3 separate regions of the Homo sapiens genome follow, and regions 2 and 3 are each linked to region 1. The links come from fine-mapping of genetic effects on gene expression. A gene starts in region 1. Each other region holds a variant in brackets. All regions are shown on one strand. Distances are between the middles of the regions.

Region 1 (10,567 bases):
AATAGAAAAAGATTAGTCTATAAATTTGATTTGGTATTCCTTATATACTTACATTTTGCTTTTAATGTTTTTTTTAAAAGGTTCCCAAGCTTGAAATCAAGTTAGTTGCATATAGTACAAAAGGCTCTCAAAATCTTTAGCTTCCAATGGAATCTGATTACTGTTTGGTATAAACTGGAACTTTGCAACAACTCCTCTATGGAGAAGTTTGTTTTGCACTTCATCTATGGGGATTTAATAAACCCTTGAAACCAGTGTTACAGAGGTTATCCATCCACCATTCTCTTTAAAGAATTTCACATCACAAGCTTGCATTATTTAAATACCTCTAAAAATATAGTGAACTTTTACACCAAAACCTTGGGTTGAACAGATAAAACCACCTATAAATGGCAAATCACCAATGGTATTGTGCTGACATTTCTGTTCTCAACATAGTGCTTTCTTTAACTGATGGCTGCTGTCCTTAAGTGTTTTGAGTAAATCTAAACCAAGTTTCTTGAGAATAACACCATATAGGTTAATATTTACCCTTTTGTTCCTAAAACTAAATGGTTTCCAATACAGTATCCCAACTATTGATGTAATAGAAGCCCATAATAAAAAGTTACATCTTTTGGATCAAAAAGGAATATTGATAGATATATCTGGGGCCCATTAATAAACATTTTCATTTCCTCAAAAGGAATTTTCTTCTTCTTTGGGGAAGTAAAAATGGAAAAATTTACACTTTTATTTCAATTAGAAATTAAGAGGCAGGTGCAGTGGCTCATGGCTGTTATCTCAGCACTTTGGGAGGCTGAGGTGGGTGGATCCCTTGAGTTCAGGAGTTCGAGACCAGCCTGGGCAACATGGTGAAACCTTGTCTCTACCCAAAATCCAAAAAATTAGCCAGACGTGGTGGTGGGTGCCTGTAATCCCAGCTACTCGGGAGGCTGAGGCACAAGAGTCTCTTGAACTTGGGAAGCGGAGGCTGTAGTGAGCTGTGATCTCACCACGGCACTCCAGCCAGGGCATCAGAGTGAGACTCTGTCTCAGAAAAAATAAATAAATAAAAGAAATTAAAAGCTGACATTAAATAAACTTGTTGAAAAAAATTGTATGTTAACCATTTATTCTAGTAAAGGCTGAATTTTCCAATCTTCCCTCCATCTTCAGAAAAAAGCAATCTATTGAGCTACTTAGACTTCCCAGTTTTCTCTTATGGTTGAAAGGAGCCTTAGAAAACTACCCAATGTCAGTCACTTCTCTCATTTTACAGAGAGGAAATGGAAGTCCACAGAGGTTAAATAACTGACTCAGTCACACAGTTAGACAGTGGTATAAGTGGACTAGAAACCACATTTCTCAATATCAGTTTAATGGTTTTTTTCCATTACAGAAGAATAATTGCCATAGTGCTTCTACCACATTAGAGTTTAATAAATGGGTTACTGAATATCCTTGTTTTCATACAAATGGGAAAAAAGTGGGATCTGTTGACCATAACTGATATTTTGCACCCAACAGCACCATATTGCTACAAGGAAACCACTCCTGTGGTTTTCTGCTAGAGGAAATGGAATTTTGACTTCTACCAGAAAGACAAGGTGTGGAATAGCTTGGCAGATGTAATTTCTGAGCGGTGGGTGGGGCAAGAGGCAGGAAGACTTTCCTGTGTCACTCACAGAACTTGGTCAATAAACACAGTTCCAAGAAGAGAAGTGACAGAAAACAAGCTCGGCATAATATTAGAATTGTCGGCTGTGTGCGGTGGCTCACGCCTGTAATCCCAGCACTTTGGGAGGCCGAGGCAGGTGGATCACCTGAGGTAGGGAGTTCAAGACCAGCCTGGCCAACATGGTGAGACCCTGTCTCGACTAAAAATACAAAAATTAGCCGGGCATGGTGGCATATGACTGTAATCCCAGCTACTCAGGAGGCTGAGGCAGGAGAATTGCTTGAACCCGGGAGGCGGAGGTTGCAGGCAGTGAGCCAAGATCGCACCACAGCACTCCGGCCTGGGCAACAAGAGCGAGACTCTGTTTCAAAAAAAAAAAAGAAAGAAAGAAAGAAAAAAGAAAAAGAATTGTCAGGTGCACTCTAAGATTAATTTATATAGGATTTTTGTATTTCATGTCACGCAGTTTTCATTATTTCTGGCCAATACATAATTCACATGTTTCTTTGCTCAATTATGGCATATGTGTCAGAATTCTTCCTGATGGTGATCCTACTCCTGGCTGCAAAAATAGTGATCAAAACTCAGTAAGTCTACACATTTTAAATAAAATAATTTGCAAAAATTATTCTAAGGAGATTTTTTCCCCATCACAGAGGCAAAAAATATAACACTAGGGATGCATATGATAGGATACTTTGTGCAGAAGGAAACAAAACTGCACACGAGCACAAATGAAACAGAAACTACCCCAATGGTTTTTAGATGAACCTTTTTGGGTGAAGGTAGTTGGGGTGAAGTACGGAAAACGAAGACGAAATAGGGAAGAGAAGTGAGAGGGAGGACATGGTAACCTCGATATCCCTCTGAGGGACCAAGAGAGCGCCCCCAGGAAGAAGACTCTCGGTCTCCTGTGCTGACAATCCTCCCGCTGCACCTGCCCAAGCATCCCGCGTGGAGCATGCTGGGAGAGGGCTGGGGCCCAGGCCTCCCCCAAGAGAGGGAGGGGAGTCAGGGTGCGCTTGGGGTGGGGGTCGAGGCCCCGCCACTCACCCGCGTCTAGAACGGCTTGGGGACAGGAAAGCGCAGCCGCGCACGGGTTTCCTCTCACGTTGGCGCACCACTCCGTTACGCTCCTGACCAGGCTGTTCTAGCTGCAGGCGGTGTTCTCTCGTTGGTCTCGCTAAAGGTGGGGAGCGCCAGGAAACGAGCGCCGCGAAGGCGGGGGTAGTGGGGCGGGGTAAAGGAGCCGGCGGCTGGGCGGAGCCGTCCGTTTGCCCGCCCGCGCAGGCGTCGGAAGGGCCGGCGCGCCCGCTGCGCGCACACTGCGTGCCCTTTCTCCCCGCCCCCTGCCGAGTTCAGAGACTTGCTATAGGCCTGCGTGACCCGGACGCTCTCCTTTACCCAACGGGCGTCCAGAGAAGAGGCCGTGCGTACGACTCGCTGACACCTCCCATTTCACCTTCCTGGCATGGAAATTGCGAGAGCGAGAGATTCTTGCTCCCGGTGTCGCTTTTTATCAGACCTCTTGATGGTTTCTCTGATGTACCCCTGCGTCCTTGAACCCTCATATTGCCCACCCCCCCAGTACTCCTGGGCTGAGACCAAAACGCAAGCCACTGAAATAGTCACGTAATTATGACACCAACGGTTTCCTATTATTACTGGAATGAGATCTGAAGCCCCACTGCCTGGAATCCAATCCTGTCTTCACCACACCTTTTGATATCCCAGGAAAGTTATTTCACCTCGCTGTGCCTCAGTTCCCTCATTTGTAAAGTACAGAAAATGTCACAGTAGTGCCTATTTCATAGAAAATTAGATGAGATAGTGCATATGACTCCCTTAGCAAAATTTCAAGCCTAGAGTAAGCATTTACTAAAAAGTACTGGCTGTTATTATTCACCCCAGTATTTCTAGTACTTAACCACAGTGCCAGCACGCAGTGGACAGTAAATATTAGTGGAATTAATGAATATTAGAACTACAGCTGAGGAACCAGGCCTAAAAAGGATAAGGAAATTTCAAAAGTCCACACAGCAAGTTAATGGCAGAGGTGGGACTGGAATCCAGGTCTCTTTTTTTTTTTTTTTTGAGACGGAGTTTCACTCTTGTTGCCCAGGCTGGAGTGCAATGGCACGATCTCGGCTCACTGCAACCTCTGCCTCCCGGGTTCAAGCGATTCTTCTACCTCAGCCTCCCTAGCAGCTGGGATTACAGACGCCCGCCACCACGCCCGGCTAATTTTTGTATTATTAGTAGAGACGGGGTTGGCCAGGCTGGTCTTGAATTCCTGACCTCAGGTGATCCACCCGCCTCGGCCTCCCAAAGTGCTGGGATTACAGGCTTGAGCCACTGCGCACGGCCCCCAGGTCTTCTAATTAAGAGTGCAGAGCTCTCTTTCCACGAAATATTTGATGTGTCTCTTTTTTTTTTTTTTTTTTTTGAGACCGAGTTTCGTTCTTTTTGCCCAGGCTGGAGTGCAATGGCGGGATCTCGGTTCACTGCAGCCTCTGCCTCCCGGGTTCAAGTGATTCTCCTGCCTCAGCCTCCCTAGTGGCTAGGATTACAGGTGTGCGCCACCACGTCTGGTTATTATTATTTTTTTTTTTAGTAGAGACGGGGTTTCGCCGTGTTGGCCAGGCTGGTCTCGAACTCCTGACCTCAGGTGTTCCACCCGCCTCGGCCTTCCACAGTGCTGGGATTACAGGTGTGAGCCACCGATCTGTCTTTTAAAATTCATTTTTGGCCAGGCGCAGTGGCTCACGCCTGTAATCCCAAAACTGTGGGAGGCCGAGGCAGGTGGATCACCTGAGGTCAGGAGATCAAGACCATCCTGGCTAACACGGTGAAACCCTGTCTCTACTAAAAATACAAAAAATTAGCCGGGCGCGGTGGCATGCGCCTGTAGTCCCAGCTACTCGGGAGGCTGAGGCAGGAGAATGCCGTGAACCCGGGAGGCGGAGCTTGCAGTGAGCCGAGATAGCGCCACTGCAGTCTGGCCTGGGCGAAAGAGCGAGACTCCGAGGCGGGCGGATCACGAGGTCAGGAGATCGAGACCATCCTGGCTAACACAGTGAAACCCCGTCTCTACTAAAAATACAAAAAATTAGCCGGGCGAGGTGGCGGGCGCCTGTAGTCCCAGCTACTCGGGAGGCTGAGGCAGGAGAATGGCGTGAACCCCGGGGCAGAGCCTGCAGTGAGCCCAGATAGCGCCACTGCACTCCAGCCTGGGCGACAGAACGAGACTCCATCTCAAAAAAAAAAAATAAAATAAAATAAAATAAAATAAAATAAAATAAAATAAAAATTAGTCGGGCGTGGTGGCTCATGCTTGTAATCCCAGCTACTCGGGAGGCTGAGGCAGAAGAATTGCTTGAACCTGGGAGGTGGAGGTTGCAGTGAGCCGAGATCGTGCCACTGCACTCCAGCCTGGGAGAGTGAGCAAGACTCCATCTCAAAAAAAAAAAAAAAATTCATTTTTGTGGCAGAAGGCTTTTTGCTAAAAAGCCCAAATTTTTACAATTATTTAAAGTGTATTGTTACTAGGTTCCATTAAGATAAAATTGAGTGGTGACTTACTCGGGCCTGAGTTCCTAAAGACACACATGTATTTGAGTGTTGTCAGTGACCTAGTTTAAGTAGACTGAAGGTTTCAGGGAACTCTGAAACAATGAACAAATATATTGTAGGTAGTTACTATCCTGGCAACACTATCTTAAAATCTGGAGATACAGTGGTGAGCAAAATAAGTACCCTGACTTCATGGAGCTGTCAGTCAAGTGGGGAAGAAAGACATTAAACAATTTATTACAAATAATTATAATGGTGGTATGTTTTCTAAAGGAATACCAAAATGAATTTTATTTCTGACAGTGGGCCCGCTGGAAAAGAAAAAATGAATTTTAGAACTGGAAAAGAATTTAAGACCGTGGAATATTTTCATTATATTTTGTTAAGTAATATAGTCTATTTCACATATTATATAAAATATATATGTATGTATGTATATATACCTATATAGTTAAGTGAAACAAATTGCAGAATACTGCATATTATATGATTATGTTTTGGTGGAAACAAACGTGCACATAGGTTTGATCTGTTCGTATGAACAAAGAGAGTTATGGAAGAATACTCAGCAAGCTCTTAATATTGATTACATCAGGAGGTTGAGGTGGGGATGATTAGCTTTGTCTTTATACATCCTTGTATTGCATTGTTTCACTGGTTATAAACAAGCACCTATTTTGAATTTGAAGACCAGCAAATAAAAGGACCTTAAAATTACAGGGACAAAAAGAAAAAAAAGAAAAGATACCAATAAAAATATCTTTTAAAGAATGCAGAGAACCACTCTGTCCTCGCAAAAAGGGACCAGGAAGGACAGAAATGACACTCAGAATTCAGACTGTGATGAAGAGGCAATATAAAATGTTTCTCCTAGAAAATAAGGGCACCTATTTGAGATGATGAATATGTTCATTAGCTTGATTGTGGTAATCATTTCACAGTGTATACATATAGCAAATCATCACATTGTGCACTTTAATTGTATACATTTATTTGTCAAACATACCTCAATAAAGCTGGAAAAAAATAAAATGATTCTTCTTTTAGTATAGAAAAGTACTGTATACCAAACTGGAAGTATTAATAATATAAGAGCAGCGCTTCTTATAGTGGTTGGTAATTTTAAAAAATATTATTTAAAAAATGACACAAGAGACCAGGCATGGTGGCTCACACCTGTAATCCCAGCACTTTGGGAGGCCGAGGCAGGCGGATCACCTGAGGTCAGGAGATCGAGACCATCCTGGCTAACACGGTGAAACCCCGTCTCTACTAAAAATACAAAAAATTAGCCAGGCGTGGTGGCGCACGCCTGTAATCCCAGCTACTTGGAAGGCTGAGGCAGGAGAATCGCTTGAAACTGGGAAGCGGAGATTGTAGTGAGCCGAGATCATGCCATTGCACTGCAGCTTGGGTGACAGAGCGAGACTCCGTCTCACACACACACACACAAAATTGACATAAGATGCTCTGAGACAGAATAAACCATGGGATTTTCAACACCAAAAGCTCTGTTAATAAGAAATTGTCTAAGAACCCAGTTCTTTACTTGACAAATAACTTACATATACTTAGCATTTTAAATAAAGTTAGTGAGATGATTGACTTATGGCTTTTTTTTTTTTTTGAGACAGAGTCTCACTCTGTCACTCAGGCTGGAGTGCAGTGATGTGATCTTGGCTCACTGTAACCTCCATCTCCCAGGTTCAAGTAATTCTCCTGTCTCAGCCTCTCGAGCAGCTGGGACTACAGGCGCATGCCACCACGCCTGGCTAATTTTTGTATTTTTAGTAGAAACAGGGTTTCACTACATTGGTCAGGCTGGTCTCCAACTCTCAACCTCAGGTGATCCACCTGCCTTGGCCTCCCAAAGTGCTGAGATTACAGGCGTGAACCACCACGCCCAGCCAGTAATGGCGTTTTTTTTAAAACAACATTCCATATCTCAGCCTTAATTTAAAAAACATGTGCAATTAGTATCTATTAAAATTAAGATGTTCATACTTTTTGGCCCAGCAAACCCATTCTAGTGATCTCTCCCACAGAAATAGGGGCAAATGCATTATTGTTTTTCTGTTTTTGTTTTTGTTTTTGTTTTTTGTTTTTGTTTAGAGACAGGGTCTCACTCTGACACCCAGGCTGGAGTGTAGTGGTGCAATCATGGCTCACTACAGCCTCCAACTCCTAGGCTCAAGCAATCCTCCTGCCTCAGCCTTCCAAATATGGGGTCTACAGGCAGGCACCACCACCCTGGATAATGTTTTGTAGAGACAGGGGCTTGCTGTGTTGCCCAGGCTGGTCTTGAGCTCTGGCCTCAAGTAATTCTCCAGCCTCGGACTCACAAAGTGCTGAGATTACAGGCGTATGCCACTGTGTCAAGCCAGCAGTTTTTTTTTTTTTTTTAACTTTCATTTTAGGTTAAGGGGTAATGTGCAGGTTTGTTATATAGGTAAACTGCATGTCTTGGGGGTTTGGCATACAAATTATTTTGTCACCCAGGTAATAAGCATAGTTCCCAATAGTTAGTTTTTTAATCTTCTCCTTCTCCCACCCTCCACGCTCAAGTAATCTCTGGTGTCTGTTGTTCCCCTCTTTGTGTCATGTGTTCTCATTGTTTAACTCTCACTTATAAATGAGAGTGCGGGTGTGGTGGCTCACGCCTGTAATCCCAGCACTTTGGGAGGCCAAAGCGGGCAGATCACCTGAGGTCAAGAGTTCGAAACCAGCCTGACCAACATGGTGAAACCCCGTCTCTACTAAAAATACAAAATTAGCTGGGTGTGGTGGCACACACCTGTAATCACAGCTACCCGGGAGGCTGAAGCAGGAGAATTGCTTGAACCTGGGAGGCAGAGGTTGCAGTGAGCCAAGATCACACCATTGCATTCCAGCCTGGGCGACAAGAGCAAAACTCTGTCTCAAAAAAAGAAAAAAAAAAGGCATGGCGCAGTGGCTCACGCCTGTAATCCCAGCACTTTGGGAGGCCAAGGCAGGCAGATTGCCTGAGGTCAGGAGTTTGAGACCAACCTGGCCAACATGGTGAAACCCCATCTCTACTAAAAATAAAAAAAATTAGCCAGGCATGGTGGCACACAACTGTAGTCCCAGCTACTCGGGAGGCTGAGGCAAGAGAATCACTTGAGCCTGGGAGGCAGAGGTTGCAGTGAGCCGAGATCGCACCACTGCACTCCAGCCTGGGTGACAGAGCGAGACTCTGTCTCAAAAAATAAAAAACAGAACATGTGGTATTTTTTTCTTTGTTCCTATGTTAGTTTGCTTATGAGAATGACTTCAGCTCCATCCATGTTGCTGCAAAGGACATGGTCTCATTCTTTTTTATGGCTGCATAGTATTCCATGGTACATACATGCCACATTTTCTTTAGCCAGTCTACCATTGATGGGCATTTAGGTTGATACTATGTTTTTGGTATTGTGAACAGTGCTGCAATAAACATATGCATGCATATGTCTTTATGGTAGAATGACTTATATTCCTTTGGGTATATTCTCAATAATGGGATGGCTATGTCAAATGATAATTCTGTTTTAAGCCCTTTGTGGAATCACCACACTGCTTTCCACAATTGCTGAACTAATTACATTTTCACCAGAAGTGTATAAACATTACCTTTTCTCCACAACCTTACCAGCATCTGCTATTTTTGACTTTTTAATAATAGCCATTCTGACTGGCACAAGATGGTATCCCACTGTGGTTGCGATCTACATTTCTCTAAAGATTAGTGATGATGAGCATTTTTTCATATATTTGTTGGCCACATGTATGTCTTCTTTTGAGAAGTGCCTGTTCATGTCTGTATTAGTCTGTTTTCACACTGCTATAAAGATACTACCTGAGACTGGATAATTTATAAAGGAAAGAGGTTTAATTGACTCACACTTATTCTTTTCCTTCTTCTTTTTTTTTTTTTTTGAGACAGTCTCACTCTTTTGCCCAGGCTGCAGTGCAGTGGCACAATCTCGGCTCACTGCAACATCTGCCTGCCAGGTTCAAGCAATTCTCCCACCTCAGCCTCCCGAGTAGCTTGGACTACAGCCGCATGCAACCACACCCAGCTAATTTTTGTATTTTTAGTAGAGACAGGGTTTCACCATGTTGGCCCAGATGGTCTTGAACCCCTGACGTCAGGTGATCCACCCACCTCGGCCTCCCAAAGTGCTGGGGTTACAGGCTTGAGCCACTGTGCCGGAACTGACTCACAGTTCTGCATGGCTAGAGAAGCCTCAGGAAACGTACAATCATAGTGGAAGGTGAAGGGGAAGCAAGGCATGTCTCCTCATGGTGGCAGGAGAGAGAGAGAGGAAGAGTGAGGAAGTGCTACACTTAAAACAATCAGCTCTAGTGAGAAGTCCCTCACTATCATGAGAGCAGCTTGGGAGAAACCGTCCTCATGATCCATTCACCTTTCACTGGGTCTCTCCCTGGACACGTGGGGATTACAATTCGAGATGAGATTTGGGTGGAGACACAAAGCCAAACAATATCATTGTCCTTTGCCCACTTTTTAATGGTGCTGTTTTTTGCTTGTACATTCATTTAAGTTCCTTATAGATTCTGGATATTAGACCTTTGTTGGATACATAGTTTGCAAATATTTTCTCCCATTTTGTAGGTTGTCTGTTTACTCTGTTGAGAGTTTCTTTTGCTGTGCAGAAGCTCTTTGGATAATTAGGTCCCATTTGTCAATTTTTGTTTTTGTTGCAATTGCTTTTGGCATCTTTGTCATGAAATCTTTGCCAGGGCCTATGCCATTTAGTATTTTCTAGGTTATCTTTCAGGGTTTTTATAGTTTTAGGTTTTACATTTAAGTCTTTAATTTATCTGGAGTTTATTTTTTTATTTTTTATTTTTATTTTTTTGAGACGGAGTCTCGCTCCGTCGCCCAGGCTGGAGTGCAGTGGTGCAATCTTGGCTCACTGCAACCTCCGCCTCCCGGGTTCAAGCGATTCTCCTGCCTCAGCCTCCTGAGTAGCTGGGATTACAGGCATGCACCAGCATGCCCGGCTGATTTTTGTATTTTTAGTAGAGACGGGGTTTCACCATGTTGGTCAGGCTGGCCTCAGACTCCTGACATTGTGATCTGCCTGCCTTGGTCTCCCACAGTGCTGGGATTACATTGAGTTGATTTTTGTGTATGGTGTAAGGAAGAGGAACATACTTCAAAATAATAAGAGCCATATGTGACAGCCCCACAGCCAACATAATACTGAATGGGCAGAAGCTGGAAGCATTCGCCCTTGAAAACTGGCACAAGACAAGGATGCCTTCTTTCATCGCTCCTATTCAACATAGTATTGGAAGTCCTGGGCA
Region 2 (10,567 bases), 59 kb after region 1:
ACTGGACCACCTACTGTTCAGATGTTGTAGCAGATATAACTAGGACCCCTGAAGGGAATGGAACAGTTGCCAATTGGATGACAAATTCAAGTCACTGTGTTCTGGCTAACAGAGTCACAGGAAATGCTGAAGGAAACATAACTAGTAGTAGCCAAAGAAGGAGAAACACATTTTGGAGCAGAATTCCTCTCGTTTGCCAATCTTTTTACAAAAGATTTTCCTGATGAAACTCGTCTGGACTTTGTTTCTTGAAAGAGTCAGGAGTGTAGAATGTGGGCATCTGGCTGCCAGCGGGGTCCTGTATCCCACTATTGGAAGGTGCCAGCCAGAGTTCTCCTCTGAATGTAATAATTACCAAGCCATTATTGAAATGGTCTTTAGAAGAAAACTTGTTTAAAGGGTTACATCCTGGGAATTTTTGCTCTTCCAATGTTATTAAAACCTAGTTGCTGTTTTCTCAGTTAGGCAAATGTTAGAGGAAATGAAATATAAACAGAGATTAATTTCTTCTCTCTGACATTTGATTTTCATTAGTTCCAAGTTATACTGTTCCTTTTATACTGTGTTCTTTTTATACTGTGTTCCTTTTAATTATCTGTTCCACAAGTTAACGTACATATTTTTTTCTTTTGAGATTCATAATGAACTTTAAAATGATGTTTTAAGGACAGAGCTCTGATGAGACCTGACTTTTTTGTTTGTTTGTTTTTATTTACCAAATGATGTATTCTTGAATAAACCTTTTTGGGTGGAAAACAGCCACCAAGTTGATTCCTCCATGCAGGGATAGACATAGTTGTGAAGGAGGCTGCAAAGCTGCCATTGGTAGTTCCCCATGTCTTCAGCCATTTTCTCCAATCCCCCATTCTTGCTTCCAGCCAGCTTGTTACCTTATAATATGTGCCCCATTGTTATGTGCCCCACCTTCTTTCGCTTTCTTTCAAGAACTTCACCCTTATCAAAATGTCCTCCTTCAGAGTCTTCTACTTTGCCTCCTGGTTTCCTCCTACCATTCTCTTACTTTCATTCTGAACTGGAACTGATTCCTCCTTAATGTTTCTCCTGGTCTGACACCTACATGACTCTTGTTTCAGTCTTCCTATAACCTACATTGTGCCAGAGGCAACAATAAATATTGAATAAATGAATAGATAGGTGAGTGAATGAATTAATTAATTTGAGGAATTCTGATGATCAAACAGGATGTCAGGTCCTCATTTTTATTTTTATCTTTATTTGTTTTTTGAGATGGAGTCTTGCTCTGTCTCCTGGGCTGGAGCGCAGTGGCACGATCTCAGCTCACTGTAACCTCTGCCTCCCAGGTTCAAGTGATTCTCATGCCTCAGCCTCCTGAGTAGCTGGGACTACAGGTGCATGCCACCACATCCACCTAATTTTTTTATTTTTTAGTAGAGACAGGGTTTCGCCATGTTGACCAGGCTGGTCTTGAACTCCCGACCTCAAGATATCCTCCTGCCTTGGTCTCCCAAGGTGCTGGGATTACAGGCACGAGCCACTGCACCTGACATGTCAGGTCCTTTATTTAATTTACTTAGATTAATTTATTATTTTTTTTAGAGACAATGTCTTGCTCTGTCACCCAGGCTGGAGTGCAGTGGCATAATCATAGCTCACCTCAACCTTGAACTCCTAGGCTCAAGTGATCCTCTCTCCTAAGCCTCCTAAGTAGTTGGGACAACAGGCGAGAGGCACTGCATCTAGCCCCTTTATTGTGTTTATTACTTCTAAATCATTTTAGTATGAAAAATTTCAAATATACAGATGAGTAGAGGGAGTGGTACAAACAGTCCCTGTGTATGTATCACACAGCTTCAATAGCTACCAACATGGAGCCACTCTTCTTTTATTTATAACCTGTCTGCTTTTTGTCTGGTCCTTTAGCTGAATTCAGTTCAGTCAAGCAAGTGCATTATGGGTGCTATGATCTGAATATTTGCGTCCCCGAAACTCATGCGCTGAAACCTAGTTATCAGTGTGATGGTATTAGGAGGTGAGGCTTTTGGGAAGTGATTATGTCACAAGTGGGACTAGTGCACTTATAAAAGAGGCCACAGAGAGTTAGCTTGCTCCTTGCACCTTGTGAAGACACAGTGGGAGTGTGCCATCTGAGAACCAGAAAGTGAGCCCTCACCAGACACCAAATCTTCCAGTGCCTTGATCTTGGACTTCCTTTTTTCTTTTCTTTTCCTTTCCTTTTCTTTTTCTTTTCTTTCTTTCTTTCTTTCTCTTTCTTTCTTTTTCTTTCTTTCTTTCTTTTTTTTTTTTGGAGTCTTGCTCTGTCACCCAGGCTGGAGTGCAGTGTCACGATCTCACAATCTTGGCTCACTGCCACCTCTGCCTCCTGGGTTCAAGTGATTCTCCTGCCTCAGCCTTCCGAGTAGCTGGGATTACAGGTGTGCACCACCATGCCCAACTAATTTTTGTATTTTTAGTAGAGACAGGGTATTGGCATGTTGGCCAGGCTGGTCTCAAACTCCTGACCTCAGGTCATCCACCCATCTCGGCCTCCTAAAGTGCTGGGATTATAGGCGTGAGCCACCGTGGCCGACCGATCTTGGACTTTCTAGCCCTCAGAACTGTGAGAAATTAATTTCTGTTGTGTATAAGCCACCCACTTTACAGTATTTGGTTATAGCAGCCCAAATGGACTAAGACAATGGGAACATTTTAAAAACCGCTACAGGTATCTGCACTTAATTTAGACCTCCTGCTTGCCCTCTCTATTATAAAAGAGGCAGATTTGTTTGTAACTTTTCCTGCTTCCTTGTTTGGCTCTTGTTTTTTACTTCTACCAGGGGTTCTTAATCTGGATGCACAAATCCCCAAGGAGTCAATGGGTAAAAATCAAGGGGTCTATAAACTTGTATAAAAAAAATACAGTTTCATTTTCACTAACGTCCAACTAAAATTATATTATGAACATAAGCAGCGAACCACAGTAGTACGTGTAGTACATGCAACTTTGAAAGGAGTAGAAATCTTTTAATATAAAATTTCAGAAGTTGTAGAGGCTTCAAAGTACCTTTTATGCTAATCACTACTTTGGAATCATAATAGTTACTAGACCTGCCACCAGATCTTGTTATTGGATGTGTGAATAAGGAAACACATACATTACTGTATCACTTATTAATATTTTTATGATTGTACAGAGATATATTTGGTTTCATTTGTAGCTCATTATGTTTTATTTTATATACTTAAATATTATTCTTTTAAAAGAAATTTATAGTTTTTCCTAAACTGTCAAAGGGTCCTATGGCTCAAAAAATATCTAGACACTTTAGTTGATAACACATTTGTATTCCTTATTCTAATTTTGACTTGATGTCTCCCTATCACCCACAACCAGTATAATTTATTACTTGTCTTCTGTGTAATACACAGGAAAGAAGTACCTCTCTTCCAAGTCCTGTATGCAGGGCTAGCTCCCCAGGACCTGCTCCTTTTACTCCCTGCCAGAGCAGGAGCCAGAGCAACCTTTGCTAGCAACCCCAGAAAATAGATTTAGCCAATTATCATTTACTAGCAACAGGAGGGCCTGATGGATGACTTTAATATATTTTAGTTTTCTACTGCTCAAGTAATTCTCATAATTCAGTTGGTTTTATATTATAATCTATTTTAGCCACCGACTGTTGGGTAAATATTGAATCCCTGACTCCTGTGCGATTTTGGCAAGCCTAGCCTTGCCCTTGGCATTATGAAAGAAGCAGATTGAATTATGTTCCCCTTCACATTTTCTTTTATCAATCTCCCTCTCTCCTCCTCTTTTTTGTTAATACTTTCTCCCCTTTCTTACTCAGAGACTGTTTCATTCTTTCCAGGCCCAGATCTGTGCTATGCAGCAAGAGATAAATCTACTTGGTCTCACAACCTGATGGCCTCTGCACTGAATTTACAAGCATGAGGTATAGAAACATCGCACAGATTGTAAGGGGTGGCCATCCCAGTTGTGTGATAAGTCTCTTGTGCCACAGGTTTTTCTTTCTGACTCTTTGCCTCAACTTCACTCAGCTGTCCCCATGTTATCTACCTGCTATCACTCTTAGCCTTAGGACATAGACCTGACCTGGACAAATAGCACCTGGGTTTGGTTGCTCCATAGATGGGGCTTCCATAGCAGGTACCAACACTCCAGGAGCCTCTCTGTTTCATATGGTATCCAATTTCCAATATCCAGTGGTCATGTAACAGACAATTGCTGTGTCTTCCATTTCTAAAGTCTCTGTGCCTATAATAAAGTGTCATCTAAGTTCTTTTATTATGTCTGAGGAATGCTGTTATTTCTATTGATTATTTGTGGAGGAGGAAAGATTGACATGCCCCGATTCTTCCTTTCTCAGGCTAACAGCTCTTGTCAGTTTCCCAGGTTACTTCTCTCCTTAAAAGGGAGTGTTCTTAAAAGAGTCTAATAATGATGGTTTATAATGCCAAAAATACCTTAAACGTTCCATTCTTTTCAGGCCCTTAAATGTAATGTCAGTCATGAGAATCCTATAAAAATCTGAGGCAGATAGCTCAGAAACAATTCAAGCCCACCCTAACCCACTTCATGTGTTAGCTTCCCTGTCTCCTTAATTTTTGCTTTCATATCTTGGTTCTATATTTCTGGTAATCCTTCAGCCTTGGTGATTTATGTTTTGTGCTCTGTATCAGCTAACATCTTGGCATCCTCAGGACTCCACATTTGGAATCTGCTCCTTGGCTCCATGTATTATAACCCTGGGCAACAAACACGTTGCCTTCACCCACAGTCCTTGGAACATCCTCTTCCCTCCCCTAACAAGAATGCTGAGCTCATTCACTTTCCAGAGCCTCAAGAGGTCTCCTGCGTAGAGTCATGGATCATGCATCTCATCCTAAAGCTCAACTAAGCAGCATCTGATGAGAATGTGACGAAGGCTGAACCAGCACACTGAACCACCATCATCCTTGTGCAAAAGCAAAACTGGAGTTGCTGGCACTGTTCTTTCAGGTCCCCTATCAAAATGCCCTTGAGCTGCGTCTGGTTCTGTTATGGCTTCTCACTTCAAATAGAACCATTAACACAGACACAGCAACTGCTTTTTTTTTTTTTACTGTGGTAAAATACGTATGAAATAGACTGCTATTTTAACCTTTTAAAGTGTAAAACTCAATGGCATTAATTACATTCAAAATGTTGTACAACCATTGCCACTATTTCTAAATTTTTTCACCCCCGCAAACGGAAACTATGAATCCAGTAAGCAATAACTCCTCATTCTTCCCTCCCTCCTACTCTCAGTTTCTGATAACCTTTAATCTAATTTCTGTCTCTATGAATTTACCTATTTAAAATCTTTCATGTAAGTGGAGTGACATAGTATTTGTTCTTTTGTGCCTGGCATATTTGACTCAGAATGTTGTAGTATGTGTTGGAGCCTTACTCCTTTTTATGGCCGAATGATATTTCACTGTATGGATATACCAAATTTTGTTTATTCATTCGTCTATTGATGGACACTTGGGTTGTTTCCACCTTTTGGCTGTTGTGAATAATGTTGCTTATGAACATGAATGTACAAGTATCTGTTTGAGTCTCTGCTTTCAATTCATTTGGGTGTATACTCCAAAGTGGAATTGCTGGATCATATAATAATTCTACATTTAAATTT[T/C]TGAGTAAGTGCCAAGCTGTTTTCCACAGTGGCCGCACCATTTTATATTCCCAACAGCAATGCACGAGTGTTCCAATTTCTCCAAATCTTCAGCAATGCTTGTTACTGTCTGATTTTTTTTTACTATAGTCATCCTAGTAGGATAGAAGTGATATCTCATTTTGTGTGTGTGTATGTGTGTGTGAGTGTGTGTGTTTGAGACCAGGTCTCACTCTGTCACCCAGGCTAGAGTGCAGTGGCACAATCTCGGCTCACTTCAACCTCTGCCTCCTGGGTTCAAGTGATCCTCCCACCTCAACCTCTCGAGTAGCTGGAATTACAGGCACGTGCCACCACACATCTGGCTAATTTTTCTATTTTTAGTAGAGATGGGGTTTCGCCATGTTGGCCAGGCTGATCTTGAACTCCTGACCTCAAGTGATCCACCTGCCTTGGCCTCTCAAAGTGCTAGGATTACAGGTGTGAGCCACCACACCTGGACCTCATTGTGGTTTCGATTTGCATTTTCTTAATGACTAATGATGTTGAGCATCTTTTCATGTGATTTTTGCCATTTGCATATCTTATTCGGTAAAATGTTTATTCAAGTCCTTTGCCCATTTTAAAATTGGGTTGTCTTTTTGTTGTTGAGTTGTAAAAGTTCTTTATATATTTTGGATATTAAGCCTTTGTCAGATTTGTGATTTGCATGTATTTTCTCCCATACTTTGGGTTTTCTTTTCACTCTATTGATAATGTCCTTTGATACACAAAAGTTTATAATTTTAATGAAGTGCAATTACTATATTTTTTCTTTTGTTGCCTGTGCTTTTGGTGTCAGATTTAAGAAACTATGCCCAAATTCAAAGTTGTCAAGATTTGCTCCTCTGTTTCTTCTACAAGTTTTATAGTTTTAACTCTTAAATTTAGATATTTGATCCACTTTGAGTTAATTTTTGTATATAGGGTAAATTAAAGTCTACTGCTTTTGACATTCTCCATTCATAAGTTTTCTTGGCTCTTTCTTCAAATTTGGCTTTATAAAATTCCTATCAATTTTTAAAAATTTACACTCTTGGATTTCCTATGCAGCTAGGACCTTGGACCCATCATGTCTCTGAAACCATGGGTAAAGGTCACTTAACTTACGTGCTCTCTGCTGGTGTGTCAGAGGAAGATATCAGACATAAACATAGAGTACGAGATGACTGACCACCAACTCTAGGAGGATGTTTTCTTACATTATTATGCAGGAGAACCATGTGCTTAGCACATACCTAACTGAATCCAACATAGCAGGCTATTGTAATACAGAATTCAAGAGGCTTGAAGAATCATAGGTTGCTTACAAAAGAGCTATAAGAGCTGAGATCGGGCTGTCTCCACTTAGTCAGATGATCCTAGCTCTGCTACATGTTCACCCTTGATAGAAAAAAAAAACACACAGAACAACAACAACAACAACAACAACAAAAACCCAAAAAAACCTAACCCTTTAAAGAGTGAAGACTATACTAAGAAGATAAGGCAGCATGACAGGCAACTGTGGGGGGCCACTTGGGACAGGAAGCTCTTTTGGTGCTGCTAGGTGTCCACCACACCATGCCGCTGGTGGTTGATTATAGAATGTTGAAACTGTCTAGAAGGAGTAATGACTTTGCATCTAATGTGAGAGAAAATTACTTGAATGAAAGCCTTGCCATATTCCCATTCATGCTGTAGATGACAGCCTCTCTCAGTTCCTTTACTGGCTGATGCTTTGGCATGTGCTAAGGAAGGTTGAGAATTGCTTCTTCCTTCTTGTGTTGTATAATACAATGAAATTTCACTGAGCATCATCTATTTCAGGCCAGGCCCTGTGCTAGACACTGGGGAATGAAACGTGAAAAAGACTTGGTTCTGGCTGGGAGTGGTGGTTCATGCCTGTAATCCCAGAACTTTGGGAGGCCGAGGCAGGCAGATATCTTGAGGCCAGGAGCTTGAGACCAGCCTGGCCAACATGGTGAAACCTTGTCTCTACTAAAAATACAAAAATTAGCCGGGCGTGGTGGTGCACACCTGTAATCCCAGTTACTCAAGAGGCTGCTCCATGAGAATCGCTTGAACCCAGGAGGTGGAAGTTGCAGTGAACTGAGATTGTGCCATTGCAATCCAGCCTGGGGGACAGAGCAGGACTCCATCTCCGAAAAAAAAAAAAAAAAGACTTGGATTCTCATCATAGTCTTGTTTTGTTGCTGTCTTTATGGAAAGTTGAGTGTTTCAGTTTCAGTTGGTACTAGCTTATGGGGACATTTGAAGGAACTTACATGGTAAATAAACTCAGGATTATATACCCAGGTTTCCATAGTGGAAATGGGCTTTAAGGATGCATGTGAGAAAGACTTAGATATTTTTTACAAGTCTCAATCAATTTATTTTTTATTTATTTTATTATAAATTGACAATTTATACCTGTATATGTTTATGAGGTACAAAGTGATATTATGATTTATGAATACCATGTGTAATAATTAATTCAAAGTAATTAACATATCCATCACCTCAAATACTTATCATTTTTTGTGGTGAGAACATTTGTAATTTACTGTCTTAGCAATTTTGAAATGTACAATACACTATTATTAAATATATTTACCATGCTGTGCAGTAGATGTAAAAAAAAAAACCCCTTATCTCTCCTAAGGAATGAGTTGGTGCTTATGTGTGTGTGAGTGTGTGTCTTTTTAAGACAAGGTCTAGCTCTGTTGCCCAGGCTGGAGTGCAGTGATGTGATCATGGTTCATTGTATCCTTGACCTCCTGGGCTTAAGTGATCCTCCTGCCTCAGCCTCCTGAGTAGCTGGGACCACAAGTGCATGCCACTACACCAAGCTAATTTTTTCATTTTTAGTAGAGATGGGGTTTTGCTATGTTACTCAGGCTGGTCTCTAACACCTGGCCTCAAGCGATCCTCCCACTTTGGCCTCCCAAAGTGCTGGGGTTATAGGCATGAGCCACCACACCTGGCCTATTTATATTTTTTAACCATCATCTCCCCATGCACCCCACCCCCAGCCTCTGGTAACTACCATTCTATTCTCTGCTTCTATGAGTTCAAGTTTTTTAGATCCCACATATAATTGAGAACATGTAGTATTTGCTTTTCTATTCTGGCTTATATTACTCAGCATAATGCTCTCTAATTCCATCCATGTTGTTGCTGCAAGTGACAAAATTTTCTTCCTTTTTTAAGGAATGGGGTCTTGCTATGTTGCCCAGGCTGGACTTGAACTCCTGGGCTCAAGCAATCCTCTCATCTTAGCCTCCCATGTAGTTAGGACTACAGATGCATACCAACATGCCTAGCTAGAATTTCCTTTCTTTCTTTCTTTCCTTCTTTCTTTCCTTTCCTTTCTTTTCTTTCTTTCTTTCTTTCTTTCTTTCTTTCTTTCTTTCTTTTTCTCTCTCTTTCTTTCTCTTTCTCTTTCTTTCTTTCTTTCTTTCTTTCTTTCTTTCTTTCTTTCTTTCTTTCTTTCTTTCTTTCTTTCCTTCTTTCTTTCTTTCTCTCTTTCTTTCTTTTAGATGGAGTTTCACTCTTGTTGCCCAGGCTGGAGTGCAATGGCGTGATCTCCTCTCACTGCAACCTCCACCTCCTGGGTTCAAGCAATTCTCCTGCCTCAGCCTCCACAGTAACTGGGATTACAGGTGCCCGCCACCATGCCAGGCTAATTTTTGTATTTTTAGTAGAGATGGAGTTCCACCATGTTGGCCAGGCTGATCTCGAACTCCTGACCTTAGGTGATCCACCCGCCTCGGCCTCCCAAAGTGCTGAGATTTCCGGTGTGAGCCACCATGCCCAGCCAAATTTCCTTCTTTTGAAAGGCTGAATGGCAGAGTGGGGGGCGGAGGGGAGTGTCCAAGATAGCCAACTAGAAGCAGCTAGTGTGCATGGCTGTCAGGTAGAGGAAAAGAAGGGGCAAATAAATACAACACCTTCAACTGAAACATCCAGGCATTCACACTGGGATTAATCAAGGAAACAACCTGACCCACAGAGAACGAATAAAAGCAAGACAACAGCCTACCTAGGAACAACATGGAGCCAGGGGATCCCCCCGCCACACAGGGAAGCGGTGACTGAATGAGTGACCCGGGGAAACCAGGCTTCTCCCAGGGGGCTGAGCCGCAACAGCCCACACACCCCACTTCCATGGCACCTCACAAGATAAGACCCACTGGCTTGGAATTCCAGCCAACTACCAGTAGCTGCATCGCACCTCCTTAAGAAGGAGTTCCCAGGGGAAGGGGTGGGCCACCATCTTTGCTGTATGGGTGTCTTGGCCATTCCAGCCTTCAGACTTTGGAGTCTGAGCTGAAGGCTGAAGGGATCCCCCAGCACAGCACAGCTCCTCTACCAAAACATGGCCAGACTGCTGCTTTAAGCAGGTGCCTGATCCCGTTCCTCCTCACTGGATGGGACCTCCCAATGGGGCCTCTGCCCACCCCTGCCTGAGCTCTCCGGCTGACAAAGATCTTAATTCTCCCTAGGATTGAGCTCCCGGAGGGAGGGGCGGGCTGCTTCTTTGCTGTTTGGGTGACTTAGCCATTCCAGCCTTTGGGCTTCAGAGGGTCTGAAGCGATCAGGGGCTGAAGTGCACTCCCAGCACAGCACAGCTACTCTACCAAAACGTGGCCAGGCTGCTTTTTAAAAGCAGGTTCTGATCCCTTCCTCCTCACGGGGTGGGACCTCCAAACTAGGGCCTCCAGCCACTTCCTACAGGTGCCTTTGGGCCAGCAACAGGTTTGCACCTCCCTGGGACAAAGTTCCCAGAGGGAGGGACATGCTGCCATCTTTGTCTTTTTGCAGCCTTCACTAGTGACACCTCCAGGTTCTGGAAAATCTGAGGTGACTAAAGACTGAAGCAGGCCCCAAGCATACTGCAGCAGCCC
Region 3 (9,096 bases), 66 kb before region 1:
AAGACCCACTTCCTTCTTTTGCCAAATCTCAGTTTACACGCTGTCCCAAAGGAGACATTTTAGAACCATATCGGCAAAAGTCAGTGTTTTCTACTAATGTGTTTCATGACCCCATGCTTTACAATTGATTATTGATTTAAAAAATCTTTAAGTTTGGTTAAATTAGCAACAATAAACCTTGTAAATTCCCTGTTGGGAGTTTTTACTTAACCTTGGGGCATTCTCAGAGGGAGGTAACACAATATCAAAAACTAAATTTGCCAACCTGTTGATCATTCTAACTGCAAAAGCATTCAGTTAGCATGTATGGTAAGACTATGCAAGGTCTCTGCCCTTGAGAAGCCAGTAGGGGAAGATAGTTTCAAAACTAATTTCCATAACAATAATATGACATATATACAAAGTGCTGTCAGAAGAGGCAAAACAAGAAATTTGGGAGAAATCTGGAATAGGAAGAGTTCTACAGAGATTATGTTTATGCTGTGTCTCAAAGTGGGAGTTGCCAAAAAGAGAAGAGGGAACAGGATGAAAGGCATTCTGGGGAACGGAAACAAGGGCAAAGCAAGGAGTGAAAGGGCCAGGCCTGTTTATGGAAACATGGAAAGTGCAGTGAGGCTGGGAAGTAGGATGTCTGGCTGGGAGTAAGGAAGATGAGGCTCAAAAGTGCCTGGCACACCAAGCCAAGAATTTGGAGTCTACTCTGTAGGCGATCATAGATAGCAGGGAGACAATCCAGCAAGCAGAGCTTTTACAAACCAGGGGTGACAGGATTGTGAGTGGAGTAAAAGCAGCTTGTATGGTATACCTTGTGATAGGTGAATCAGAACCCTGCAAATAAATCAACTTTCTAACTTTGTTTAAACAGGCCCACTTGTTTTTGTGTCTTGAAAAGTCCCTGATTAAAATGCAAATCAACCTTTGGCATTATTAGACAATATCATTGCTATTTGATGACAGCCTGCTGAAAGCAAGGCTCTAATGGAACTTAGAACCGCTGAGAAGGGAGATGGGGGCCTGAAAGGAGACAGATGGAAGCACTCCTATCTGTTTTGAATATACCACATAGTTTTTTTCATTTTGTTTTGTTTTGAAGACAGAATCTTGCTGTGTCGCCCAGGCTGGACTGCAGTGGTGTAATCTTGGCTCACTGCAACCTCTGCCTCCCGGGTTCAAGCGATTCTTGTGCGTCAGCCTTCTTGAGTACCTGGGACTACAGGCATGTATCACTACGCCTGCTAATTTTTTTTGTATTTTTAGTAGAGTCAGGGTTTTGCTATGTTGGCCAGGCTGGTCTCGAACTCCTGGCCTCAAGTGATCCGCCTGCCTCAGCCTCCCAAAGTGCTGGGCCTACCATATAGTTCTTGCTGCCCAAATAGAAACAGTAAACTCTTAAGGCCAGGAAAGACACCTTAATACATTGAACTTTCCTTTATCGTGTCTCACAGTTCACAAAATGCTGAACCACTGTAAATGCAGGGTAAATGCTTATTGAATTGAGTATTTCATTGCATGTGAATAAAATAATGCTGTGTCTTTATAAGGGAGGATTAACTGACTCATTTTCAGGATTTAATGAACAAGGTTGTTCTAATTCATGTAGTTAAAATCTTTAGGAGGGTATATGAAGTGCTAGCCATTTTAAAAAATTACAAATATTAGTGCAACTGAAAGGGAATGGACATAAAGATAAGAGAAAGCTGCTTTTGCCATACAAAGATAAACTTTTCTACTAACCTAAATGATAGCTGAGTCCTGTTAATATTTAACTACATTCTAGTAATAATAGTTCCCTATCTCACATGGTTATCTAAGCCCTTCAGTCTTCTGAGTTACATGTTGGTTTTAAAAAGCACAGATCTGGCCACGCGTGGTGGCTCATGCCTGTAATCCCAGCACTTTGGGAGGCCAACATGGGTGGATCACATGAGACCAGGAGTTCCAGACCAGCCTGGCCAATATAGTGAAACCCCGTTTCCACTAAAAATACAAAAATGAGCCGGACATGGTGGTGTTCACCTGTAATCCCAGCTACTCAAATGGCTGAGGCAAAAGAATCCCTTGAACCTGAGGCAGAGGTTGCAGTGAGCCAAGCTCACACTGCTGCACTCCAGCCTGGGTGACAGAGTGAGACCTTGTTACAAAAAACAAACAAACAAACAAAAAACAAGGCTAGGTGGCTCAGGCTTGTAATCCCAAAACTTTGGGAGGCTGAGGCGGGCCGATCACCTGAGGTCAGGGGTTCAAGACCAGCCTGGCCAACATGGTGAAACCCTATCTCTACTAAAAACACAAAAATTATCTGGGCACGTTGGCAGGTGCCTGTAATCCCAACTACTCGGGAGGATAAGGCAGAAGAATCGCTTGAACTCAGGAGGTGGAGGTTGCAGTGAGCCGAGATTGTGCCACTACACTCCTGCCTGGGCAACAGAGAAAGAGTCTGTCTCAAAAAAAAACAAAAACCTTCCAAGTTGGTTTGTAAAATATCTTTTACATCAAGAACCAACTAATTGAGGCTAGTTGAAGAACATAAGCGTATATTCTGTACACCCAAATGTTTGCCAATCAACGTTAAACACATTCTCAACATTAAAATACATTTTCAAGGTTGAACTCACGGGAGCCACACTAATCAAGATGTGTAATGTAGGACACCATACAATTATAGCCATTATCAGACTAAACCAGACTGGGCACTTAACACATATTCCATATTTAGGATCTTTCATCTTGTGAGTTCAACTCATACCTTAGAAACATTAATTAAACTTTACAATGTTGCCACATGAAGTGTAGTTATTATTGGCCACCTTTAACCAAGCTGTTTATAAAGGTAAGTATATGTGTAAAGGAAGAAATACAAACAAAGACAGGGAGCTAGCTTTTACAATGTCAATTCCTTTATTTCTGTGGACATCTCCCTAAAAAGGCAGAGTGTAACCCATTTCCCCTTTTTGATCACAGGGATTCCCCAGGGTGCTTGGGGAATCAAGATGTGTAATGTAGGACGCCATACAGTTATAGCCATCTGGGGTGCTTTAGGTCCTCTCCAGATATCTCATACCAGTGGCTTGCCACTAGACAGACACTCCTGGAAGCCTTCCTATCCAATGGGTGGGATTTTCCTTAGGAATGGGAGAGACTGCTTGCCCAGGAGAATCTGAAGATGTTTCTGAGAATGCATTAAAAAAACACAAACAACAACAAAAAGCAAAAACCAAAACAAAACAAAACAGAAAAAACGGCTGGGCACAGTGGTTCACACCTGTAATCCCAGCACTTTGGGAGGCCAGAGTGGGTGGATCACTTGGCCAGGAGTTTGAGACCAGCCTGGGCAACATGGCGATACCCTGTCTCTACTAAAAATACAAAAATTAGCCAGGCCTGGTGGTGCACATCTGTGGTCCCAGCTACTTGGGAGGCTGAAGTAGGAGAATTGTTTGAACCCGGGAGGCAGAGGTTGCAGTGAGCCGAGATTGCACCACTGCACTCCAGCCTAGGTGACAGAGTGCAAAAAAAAAAAAAAAAAAAAAAAAACTGCTAGGTAAAGGGCAGTCCATTTACTTTTTTTTTTTTTTTTTGTCTGAGACAGTGTCTCGCTCTGTCACCCAGGCTGGAGTGCAGCGGCGCCATCTCAGCTCACTGCAAGCTCCGCCTCCCGGGTTCATGCCATTCTCCTGCCTCAGCCTCCCAAGTAGCTGGGACTACAGGCGCCTACCACCACGCCCAGCTAATTTTTTTTTGTATTTTTAGTAGAGATGAGGTTTCACTATGTTAGCCAGGATGGTCTTGATCTCCTGACCTCATGATCCGCCCGCCTCGGCCTCCCAAAGTGCTGGAATTATAGGCGTGAGCCACCGCGCCCGGCCCAGGCAGTCCATTTTCTTCATCCACTTTTCTGAAGGATCATCTTTGAAGCAGGAAAGTACAGAGAAGGCAAACTAAGCAATGCTGAGATAGTAAAGATTGTATCATAATAAGGGCTTTGTTATGCTATCAACACCAATGGGCTGCTGAGGAGGCCAAAGCTCAAGCAAAAATAATCCAACTACACAATGTGAATTCATCAGTTTCCCATCCTGAGATTGCTATATAAAAGCAAGGAAAGTAATAACATGTGCTGAACCTATGTGCTAAGTAAAATGTAAATAGATAACAGATTTCATATGTATGTGTGTGTGTATAGGTATATATATATATATATATATATATATATATATATATATATATATGTATATATATTTGGGTTTTTTTTTGAGATGGAGTTTCGCTCTTGTTGCCCAGGCTAGAGTGCAATGGCACTACCTTGGCTCACCACAACGTCCACCTCCCGGGTTCAAGCGATTCTCCTGCCTCAGCCTCCCAAGTAGCTGGGATTACAGGCATGCAGCACCACGCCTGGCTAATTTTGTGTTTTTAGTAGAGACGGGGTTTCTCCATGTTGGCCAGGCTGGTCTCGAACTCCCAACCTCAGGTGATCTGCCTGCCTCAGCTTCCCAAAGTGCTGGGATTACAGGTGTGAGCCACCGCACCCAGCCAAATTTCATATTTTTAGCAAAATTGTTTATCTTACATCGCCTGAAGTTACTGACTTGGTACATCAACCATTCAAGCACTTCGTTCCTTAGCTCAGAGATTTTATCTGTCATACCTGTGAACCATCTGGAAAGCAGATTTAAGGACTAAAAGTTAGAGATAGGCTGTTTTCCCTGAGGGTTTGGGAGTGGGGAGCCAGAGCAGCCACAGATGACTTCTCCCTTGGGTGCTGCCAAGGACTTGCTTATGGAGTTGCTGGGCCTATATATATATTTGGCGAGCTGATGTGCCATGGCATGGGCCTATTTTTAACATTCTGTTTACTTTATCGATGTCTCTCAAAGTCCCTCCAACCCCACCCTGCTCAATGTTTGATCTAATGGCATTCAGCTTTTCTTTTTCTCACAGACAAGGCCAATTTAG[ATT/A]TTTTTTTTTTTTTTTTTTTTTGAGACAGAGTTTGGCTCTGTCGCCCAGGCTGGAGTGCAGTGGTGCAATGTTGGCTCACTGCAATCTCCATCTCCCAGGTTCAAGTGATTCTCCTGCCTTGGCCTCCCAAGTAGCTGGGATTACAGGTGTGCACCACCATGCCCAGCTAAATTTTTTGGTATTTTTAGTAGAAATGGGGTTTTGCCATGTTGGCCAGGCTGGTCTTGAACTCCTGACCTCAGGTGATCCGCCCACCTCGGCCTCCCAAAGTGGTAGGATTACAGGCATGAGCCACTGCACCCAGTGCCAATTTAGATTTAAATCCAGGGTTCCCAACTCACTGTACAATAGAATGACCTAGGAGTTTTTTTTGTTTTTTAATCTTTACCCAGGTCCAAACCTAGTCAGTCCAATTCAATCAGAATCTCTGTGAGGAGGACCTCAATTATCAGTATTTTTAAGAAGCTCTTGGCCAGGTGCGGTGGCTCATGCCTGTGCCTGTAATCCCAGCACTTTGGGAGGCCGAGGCAGGAGTATTGCTTGAAGCCAGGAGTTCAAGACCAGCCTGGTCAACAAAGCGAGACCCTGTCTCTATCGAAAAAAAAAAAAAAAAATTAGCTGTATGTGCTGGCATATCCCAGCACTTTGGGATGCTGAGGTGGGAGGATTGCTTGAGCCCAGGAGTTCCAGCTGCAGTGAGCTATGATGGTGCCAATGCACTCCAGCCTGGGTGACAAAGTAAGACTCTGAAGAAAAAAAAAAAAAACAGCTCTCCAGGAAATTCTACATACCTCCAAGTTTGAGAAACCATAGTTGTAGATGAAGTAAGTATGTCTTGTGATTTGAATGGGGCTGATAAGCACTTGTATTCCGTTTAATGCCTGAAATTTCATGATTATTTATTCACTCATTTGGATAACACATTGCCTCCTTCTCTAGGAATCCTTTTTTAAAGTGCAAATTAGCCAAGGAGTCTTAGTTCCTAACCCTTTAAGGTGAATGCCTCTTGGAGGAAAAAAGCTAATAGGAAAGTCCTAGGAGACTGGAGGTAAACAGAACTAGAAGAAGCCACTGCAATAGGGAGTGGTGAGAGGTGAGGTTACCAACCAGGAAGGAAAGATTTCTGAGAGTACATTTTGCTGACCTCACAGTATTGCCTAGGGCCAATCCTGCTTTTTGATGACTGCATATTTAAAACCTAATCAAGTTTGACAGCTTATCTAAGCTGCCAAAATCATACTAAAAGAAAATTTAAATATTTTTTATAAGCAAAGCAGAGAGCAGACATTGGGTATGTAGGTTTAGAGCTATCCCTAAATGCCCAACTTTTAAATTATCACTCACCTCAGGGAAGTTTCTATTACCAAGTCATGTATTTTTCCTGCTTCTATTACTAAATGTCCTTTATTCCCACCAACAGCATTATTTCTCTCTCCAATTCCTTTGGTCATTCAACAAAAATATATTGAGCAAATACTCTCAGCAACGCATGGTGCTAGATGCCGTGAGGGAATACAGAATAACACAAAATTCAATTTGTAGTTGATTTCACAGTTTTTCAAAGCACTTTCACATACAATCTTATTTTATCCTGATAAACACACTGTGAGATAGATCAAGTACCATCCCCACTGTACAGATAAGAAGTAGGCTCAGCAAAGGAAGTTAAAATTATTTGCTAAAGTCACAAAGCACACAGACCTAAGTCCAGTTCTTCACAGACTCCAAATACAGCACTTCCCATAGTTTACAATTTCGTAAGGAGACTTGCCATAAAATAGTCTCAAGTAGTAGACATGTTAGAAAAAGACGTTCAGAGCCCCACTCACCAAGAGAAAAAAATGAAGAATAAGAAAATAACTCTTTTATTGAGATAAGCTAAATCAAAATGCCCAAAAGGAGACCAAGCTTGCATGCAGTTCAGGCCACCATCAAGCAGGTAGGACAAAACAGCCGGCAATGCACATTTAAGGATATGGTGGCAATCTTGTTCTAGAGAATCAGTCTATTCTCTGGCTGGACCCTCAGCCAGTGGCTGATCTTCACAAGAGGTAGAAACTGGCTGCTTCTCCTGGCCAAATCCAGGAAAACAGTGAAGGAACCCTGCCGGCAGACCCATCATGTTCTACTCCCTTAGTATACAAAGACAACCCTTGCCCTCCATTCTCAATTGGCAATGTAGGTTTAGAGCTATCCCTAAATGCCCAACTTTTAAATTATCACTCACCTTAGGGAAGTTTCTTTTTTTTTTTTTTTTTGAGACGGAGTCTCGCTCTGTCTTCCAGGGTGGAGTGCAGTGGTGCCATCTTGGCTCACTGCAAGCTCCGACTCCCTGGTTCACGCCATTCTCCTGCCTCAGCCTCCGGAGTAGCTGGGACTACAGGCGCCCGCCACCACGCCCGGCTAACTTTTTATATTTTTAGTAGAGACGGGGTTTCACCGTGTTAGCCAGGATGGTCTCGATCTCCTGACCTTGTGATCCAACCGCCTCGGCCTCCCAAAGTGCTGGGATTACAGGCGTGAGCCACCGCGCCCGGCTGGGAAGTTTCTATTACCAAGTAATATATTTGGTGGGTAAGGCAGACAATTACAAGACAGAGTGACAAAGGCCACTATGAGAACGCAGAGGTGGGACACCTGGCCCAGCCTAGGAGGGTGAGGTGGGGTGCAGTGGAGGAAGGGAATTAAGAATAGCTTCCAGAGAAAGAAATCCAATTTAAATCCCCGAGAGTGAGTGGGAATTAGCCAGGCAAAGGGAGTGAAAGGGAGCAGGGGGCATAAAGAAGGAAGATAGGAAGCACATTTAAATCCTAAAGGAAGAGAGAGTAAGGCACATTCAGGACATTGCAAGGAGACTAGTTATTAGAGTGTAACTTCAGTCCTAACCAGAAACTCTGAAGAGCTAATGAAGGAAATGAAGGCAGCATCCCAATCTCAAGTCTGGTACAGCAATCTTAGGCCTCTTAGCACCAAATCTTACTCAAATACCCTACTTGCTGTTGGAGCTGTGGCTACAGATAACACTTCTTGCCTTGAGCCACACTGGTTCAGGAATTGGATTTACAAGTCAGGCTCACTCTTAGATATAGGAGGTGAGAATCACAAAGCGGGAGAATAGGGTTTGACACGTGCAAAGTAAGACAAGGGCAGACTTGATAATAAGAACCACAATACTGGGCAACACTACAAAAATTCAGATAAACTACAGCAGGGTTTGGAAACCACAGCCCATGGACCAAACCCTGTCCTTTACCTGTTTTTGTAAATAAAGTTTTATTGGAACATTGCAATATTTATTTGCCTATGTATTTTCTGTGGCTGCTTTTATGCTAAAACAGCAGAGTTTAGAGTTTTGACAGAGACCGTATGGCCCACAGAGTCTAAAATAGTTCCTACTAGTTCCTTAACAGAAAAAAAAATTGCCAGTCCTTGCATTTGAATATACTAATTGTTAAAAACAGAGACATGGCACAAAGGAGAAAGTGATTTAGAACATGCTAAGGATTTTCTATTCCTATTCTGCATGCAGACTTCAAAGGATGGCAAGAGAATATTCTTTGATAAGAAAATGGCTAAATAAATTGTGGTATAGTCACATAATGAAATACTATACAGCATTGAACAATGAATAAATTACAGCCATGTGCATAAGTCTCAAACAATGTTATGTGAAAAACACAAATCACCAAATAATACCTACAATTTGATAACTTTTTAAATAAAGCTCAAAAATAAGAAAAACTTGCAGATATATAATATGATAAAAGTATTAAAGTATAGAAGGAAAATAGCTGGGTGATATGGTATGCACCTGTAGTCCCAGCTACTTGGGAGGCTGAGGCAGGAGGATCGCTTGAGCCCAGGAGTTCGAGACTAGCCTGAGCAACACAGGGAGATAACAAAAAAAAGGGGGTGGGGTGGGGTGGGGGGAATAATTAATGTAAGATCTGGGATAGGAGATTGCTCTAGGGGAAGTATGGGAGGAAAATTTAGGGAAGGGGAATTTAGGTAAATTCAAAAGCATCAGTAATGTTCTAGTTCTTACACACAGATGATAGATTCCTGGATGTTTATTTAATAATTATGCTCCATAAATTACACATCATACATCTTTTGTATGTATTAAAATTACACAAG

Direction of the effects. Positions count from the first base shown, and alleles are read on the strand shown. Sizes are in standard deviations (SD) of each study's normalised expression.
For the expression in anterior cingulate cortex of the gene that starts at base 2,851 in region 1, allele C in region 2 goes with a lower level than allele T (moderate effect, 0.54 SD a copy in GTEx).
For the expression in NK cells of the gene that starts at base 2,851 in region 1, allele A in region 3 goes with a lower level than allele ATT (moderate effect, 0.69 SD a copy in Gilchrist 2021).

The links. PIP is the estimated chance that this variant, and not a neighbour inherited with it, causes the effect.
Region 2: its variant is the best candidate, but not a certain one, in a credible set for the expression of C1GALT1C1 in anterior cingulate cortex (GTEx, PIP 0.56).
Region 3: its variant is the best candidate, but not a certain one, in a credible set for the expression of C1GALT1C1 in NK cells (Gilchrist 2021, PIP 0.82).

What each region holds. Positions count from the first base shown.
Region 1 is chrX:120,627,204-120,637,770 of GRCh38, forward strand. It overlaps C1GALT1C1 (C1GALT1 specific chaperone 1), which reads right to left and starts at 2,851. Exons shown (of 2, transcript NM_001011551.3): 1 at 2,714-2,851. RefSeq lists an enhancer at 2,232-3,159 and a silencer at 2,819-3,088.
Region 2 is chrX:120,685,741-120,696,307 of GRCh38, forward strand. No RefSeq gene overlaps it. Among named protein-coding and RNA genes, the nearest start is that of C1GALT1C1, 61 kb to the left of the region's middle. The variant T/C (reference allele first, on the strand shown) is at 5,661.
Region 3 is chrX:120,562,162-120,571,257 of GRCh38, forward strand. It overlaps a transcript of CUL4B not described here. Among named protein-coding and RNA genes, the nearest start is that of CUL4B, 5.7 kb to the left of the region's middle. The variant ATT/A (reference allele first, on the strand shown) is at 4,957.